Regions from separate parts of the Homo sapiens genome. Here region 1 is linked to region 2. Evidence: fine-mapped expression QTL. A gene starts in region 2. The other region holds a variant in brackets. All regions are shown on one strand. Distances are from middle to middle. Region 1 overlaps LOC107984281 (a long non-coding RNA gene). Region 2 holds the start of MGMT (O-6-methylguanine-DNA methyltransferase).

Region 1 (3,012 bases), 330 kb before region 2:
ACACTCTGGCTCTGACCAGTGGCAACAGTGATGACCCAGGAGCACCACTGCAGAAGCTCGGTTAACCCAGGGGGCTCATCTTCCTCCAAAGGCCACCCTGGGGTCTCTTTCTGCCTCCATGGAGCTAGAAACCCAGGAAACAGCAGCTCTCTGAGGACTCAAGGCCAGCACTAGAGAAGAGGGTCTGTCTTTCAAACATCCGCTGCAAACAAGACAGCCCAAATAGTGCACTTAGGAGCTGCAGGCTTTGGGGTAGGGAGGCAGAGACGCGGCTGGGCAGTAGGAAGCCAGCAGGGACGGTGGGCCAGGTCTCCTTGCTTCTGCAGTCACCCAGGGAAGATCCTTGTGCTCAGGGGGGATTTGGCTTTGGTGCCCAGGAAAGGACTGGAGCCTCATCCCCTCACACACTGACTCCCTCCCCTGGTCTGCACCATCTCCCACAACAGGATGGGAGGTTGCATGGAGCATAATGTCAGCACTGGCCCCTCTGCCCGGGGTCCCTCACGTGCTCATTCTGGCTCCAAATGGAGGCTGTGTGCGAGTTACGGAACTCACGCAGCCTCTGCTCGCAATTTCCACCAGGAAGAGCTGCTCCTTTTTCACTTTTAAACCCCAAGTAGGGCTAAAGAGCTCTCAGCCGCTCCCTTCTAGAGGGCCCGGGAATGGCCAGCCAGGAACGCGGCTCTCCCGCGGCCACGGGAATGCCTGCTCTCTAGTGTCCCGACGAGCCCACAGGCAGGCCCCAGGAACAAAGAATGAAATGGCCCCAAAGAGCAAGAGTTACATTTCATGCTTAAAATCAAGGCCATCCCATGAGGAGCCAACCACGGAGACTCTTGATTGATGGCGGAGAATAATTATTCTCAGTGTTGCTGCGAGCTTGCCTTCGTAGAAAGCCAGAGATGAATAAAATATATGAGAGCATATCAAAATATAGTGCAAGGACAACATATACAAACAGTACGTTAAGCATTATGGAAGACAATAAACGGAGCTGGAAAACACATCCGAGTTAGCGCTGGGCCCGGAATCCGTGTGCATCTGCGCGAATGGGAAGCAGCGCCGCAGACGTCTCTGTGTGGCCCCTTCGGTCCTGGGAATACTTCATTAGTTGGAAAATCTGAGCAGATTAATTTCTACCGCCGCCTCCTTCCTGAAGGACAGGTTCCTGGGTGCACAGCGCGGC[T/C]GCGGCTGCTCCTCTGCCGCCAGGCCCCGGGCTTCCCTCCACACGCAGAGTGCAGTGTCAACAGAAATGCTACAGTGACATTTCTCTCTCTCTCAATTACTTGTAGGCTTTTCACTGCCTGTATAAAATACATATTGTGCTCCAGCGAGATCCATTGTACCGAGGTCAGCGGGAACTCATTGTCCTTTTTAGCTTCAGAACAAGACAATACTGACATCTGTAAGATTTGCTGTAAATAATCCAAGTGGTATAGGTACCGGGTCAGGGGCAGGAGAGGGTAAAAAAGAAAGGAGGAGGGAAGGAAAAGAGGAAGGAAGAGGGAGGGGGTGAGGTGGGGTGAGGTGGGGAGAAGGGGAGAGGGGAGAGGGAAGAGGGAGGCAGAAAGGTGTTGTGAAATTTACTGAATGCTAAATCATTCCGCATCCTGAATTGGTCATGGGAAGGCTTCACCAAATCGTTTGCATCATTTCAGGGAAAAATAAATATTTGGCAAATACCTACAGGACAGCATCGGCTTGCATGCCTACTGCAGATGGCCTTTGCTCCCAGGGCAGGATTTATCCTGCAAACCATCGCACCAGAGAGCCCTAGGTGCAGGGGCTGTGCCCAGCCCTCCAGCAGAGCCACACATGTGGAGCTCCGGTGCATGGCCTCGAATTCTAATTGGGATGGCAGAAGTCTATGATTCTGATTAAGTGCAACGGAGTCATTTACTTGACAGTTCAAATCAATAAGTTAAAATGGGGTGGGGGTGGGGGAACAACCTGCACAGTCAAAGATTCGAGAAGCAGAAAGGCCTACTGGGTGCCGGCTTTGCCCTGAACCGCCTGCCTTTTAAGTCGGTGTGTGAGAAAATCAAAAGCGTATTTGACAACCAGTCAGGGAGAAGCTCTTCTCCGAAGGAGAGATTTTTCATGGAAAAGAAAATTTGGCGACAGGCAGGGGACTGTGCCCGGGATGATAAATGAGGGAGAGAAATACTAATGGAGACTCCGTGCAGGCAGAAGTGAGACTCCTGGAAGCCCACTTGTCTTTTTCTTCTCTACCTGTGTAAGAGGCAGAGACCGTGCATGCATGTGCGAGTGTGCACGTGTAGGAGGGAGAGATGGAGCGTGTGTGCGTGAATGTGTAACAGGCTGAGACCAAGTGTGTGTGCATGTGTGTATGAGGCAGAGACCAAGTGTGTGTGTGTGAATGTGCATGCGTTGTGTTGGTGGGACACACAGTGTGTGCACATGTGTGCATGTGTGTGCCTGTCCCAACACACTTCTCCAGTCCCTGGTTTGAGACCCTGTCCGGGGGTGGATAGAGAGAGAGCTGCTGATGAACTTGGCTTCCAGTACAAATGCGGCTGCTTCTCTGGGTGGGAGGCGATCGCCACACTTCCTCAGTCATGGACAGTGCTGATTTTGAGGCTGGCCCAGCAATAAATTCATTTCCACTCGGGACTTTTACCCTTAAAGACAAAATCTCTTCAGCCTGTACCTTTTCCCTTCGGTCATATCCAGAAAAGTGAGCATGTGATTTCAATTTGAAATTAAAAGTCATGTCTGAATAACAGAACTGCATTCTCATTTCCTAATACCCTGGTTTTTACTACTTTGCATTCAACTGTGAAAAGTCTTTTAAAACTCGGAACAGCAGTAAAACTTGAATGAATTTTTGACCCATTATTGCATAGCGGGTGCGCCTTCCAAGTTGGAGAGACTGCCAAGTTCTCACCACCTAATATTTCCACTTTAATTGTGCCACTTGAGAAATTTACGTGCCTCAAAATATGGCATGAATCTTACGCTTATTGCAGTATCATTAGCAGCAACATTTAA
Region 2 (2,755 bases):
TGAGAGGGCCCTGAAAATAACAAAACCATCTCCTAGACACCTGCCCAGGGATGGGGGAGATGACGGGAGAGCCTGACTTAACAGATACTCTATAGGTTTCTATTTGGATGTCTATGTAAATAACCAGTCTAATTCTCAGCTCTCTGTGCTTAACATTCTACTGAGAACAGCTCTCTGGACCAAGCCGCTTCCCTGTCTGATGATGATCTCAGCAGGCATAGGTTGCACACACATGTACAAAGTCTGCTTTCCAGGACAGAAAGCCAGCTACTCAGCTGAAGCAACTGAGAGCAAACACCACCCTGAGATTTCAGGAGATGATGAACCCAGGAGTGCGAAATACATAGTTCAGAACTCCTCTGCGGTGTTATAACCGACATTACGGTGCCCAGTGTGTGTGGCTCTCCAGCGAGCCTTGCTTACTCTAAGTGTTGATGAATACAGTTAGGGTATGATGTACACAAACACCAGCCATAGTAACCAGAAGGCCCCTAGAACTTGGCCTCCAGCAGGAAGGAAATATGGGACTCTGCCTAAGTATGCTAAAGGGTTGCTGCAAGCCAAGGCCCGCGCAGGGGCTTCTGGAAGCTTCCTGGAGCAGCTGGCGGAGGGAAAGCTGGCAGCATGGAAGGGTAGGAAGAACCCGGGGCCCGGGCCTGGGGCTGGCACCTAGAGGTAAGGCAGGGGCTGCCACGACCCCCGCCACACGCCAGTCCACAGTCACTGCAGCGCAGCCTAGTCCAGGAACCCCAGGCCCGGGGAAAGGCTGGGCAACACCTGGGAGGCACTTGGGGCGCACCTGGAGCTCGCCCGGGATGGGTGGGGGTCAGGGCGGCCCCACACCCGACGGCGAAGTGAGGGCGCCTGCAGGACCACTCGAGGCTGCCACCGTCCCGAGGGAGAGCTCCGCACTCTTCCGGGAGCGAGGCGACCCAGACACTCACCAAGTCGCAAACGGTGCGCACCGCGAGGACCTGCGGGCGTCGGGACGCAAAGCGTTCTAGGGGCGCGGGCTGTCCCAGCATATCCGGGGCGCGGGGGCGGGGCCGAGGGGCACGGGGATGGCGGCGTGGGGCGGGGTCTAGAGCGGGGCGGAGCCGAGGACCTGAGAAAAGCAAGAGAGCGCGCGGGGGCGGGGCCGGGGCGCGCGGGGGCGGAGCTGGGGCGGAGCCCGGGAGGGGCGGGGTGTTCCCGCCCGACCGGGTCGGCGCATGCCCTGTGCGGCGGCGCCGGGCCTGAGGCAGTCTGCGCATCCTCGCTGGACGCCGGCACGCCGGCCCTGGTCCTCCGGCAGCGCCGCTGCCCTGTGCGCCTGACCCGGATGGCCCTTCGGCCGGTACAAGCCGGGCGGCGCCTTCCCAGCTTCCGCCTGAGGCTCTGTGCCTTAGTTTGCCAAATGGCCCGTACCTTTTCCTGTCACAGGGATAGTCCGCGGGCGTGCAAGCGACCTGCCACGTGCCCGAGTGGTCCTGAAAGCGCGCGGGGGTCGTAGGACGGCGCCCGCTTAGTGAGAATCCCGGTCCTGCTCGGGGCGGCTACGCTGAGCCCGGAGCGCGAGTCTCTCCCCTCCTGGTGCCGCTCCCCTAGTCAGGGACCCCCAGACCAGCAGAGACCCTGTCAGGGGGCCGTGGGGGCAGCCTCCAGGGCCTGTGGTGGGCGATGCCGTCCAGGGGCTGCAGTCACCGATGGCCTAGACACTGCCAGAGCCTGACTCAGCCGCTCTCCAGAGAGCACACAGGGTGCCAGGCCCTGCTTGGGGTTGTGTGGACGTTATTAGGAGTTGAATTGTGTCCACCAGAGAAGCTATGTTGGAGTCCTAACTCCCAGTACCTCACAATGTGACCTTATTTGGAGATGGGGACTTTACAGAAGCCATCAATTAGTGGGCCCCTCATCCAGTATGACTCGTGTCCTTATAGGCAGAAGGCCGCTTGGGGAGGAGGATTGGAGGGCTGCACCTGCAAGCCACCAGAAGCCTAAGAGGACAGACCCTTCCCTGGAGCCTTCGGAGGGAGCAGAGGACACTCTTCCCTGGAGCCTTCAGAGGGAGCAGGATCCTAACACACCTGGGTTTCAAACTTCTGGCCCCCGGAAGTGTGAGACAATAGGTTTCTGTTGTTTTAAGCCACTCAGTGTGTGGCACTTTATTATGGCAGCCCCAGGCAATGGGTACAGAAACCATTGTCTCTAACGTGGTTGGCATAAGCACCCCAGGGAGTAGTATCATCCCTGGAGGCTTCGGAGAGGTCACACACCCCTTGGCAGGATCCCATCCAAGGCCCACATGTTCTAAGCCACCATGCTACGGGCCTTCTAGGTTCTGTTTGTTATCTTAATGGAAAGGGGTCTTCACCTTCCCGGTGAAGTTTCCCTGTTGGGATTCGGCCAATGCTCATACCTTCGTATTTGTGACTTGCAGGATCCAACATATTAGCATGAGTGATAAGGGTTGTTCAGAGGAGAACTTCAGCAGGATTTGCTTTGGGATGAGCCCTGGTGACAATACAGGCTGCATCATTGATCCTCTGAGGTTCCCCACCCCGACCCTGCCTTGGATGAGACATGTTTTAAATAGCTGCTTGTGGGAAATAAACTAGGCCCTGAGTACACGATATAATGGTCAAATCAAGGCACTTTTTCCCCACTGAACCTGGACACAGCCTCGGAATCCTTCTCAACACTGTGTTCCAAGCAGCCATTCACATTTAAACTAATGTGGAAGGACAGATGAAACATGTTTGCCCTTGGCTCTGGT

Evidence for each region. PIP is the estimated chance that this variant, and not a neighbour inherited with it, causes the effect. A credible set is the group of variants that fine-mapping cannot tell apart.
Region 1: its variant is the best candidate, but not a certain one, in a credible set for the expression of MGMT in tibial artery (GTEx, PIP 0.72).

The regions. Positions count from the first base shown.
Region 1 is chr10:129,792,349-129,795,360 of GRCh38, reverse strand. All of the region lies in intron 3 of LOC107984281 (a long non-coding RNA gene), which reads right to left. Among named protein-coding and RNA genes, the nearest start is that of MIR4297, 50 kb to the left of the region's middle. The variant T/C (reference allele first, on the strand shown) is at 1,187.
Region 2 is chr10:129,465,486-129,468,240 of GRCh38, reverse strand. MGMT (O-6-methylguanine-DNA methyltransferase) reads right to left here and starts at 1,000. Exons shown (of 5, transcript NM_002412.5): 1 at 945-1,000. RefSeq lists silencers at 701-900, 921-1,360 and an enhancer at 212-1,134.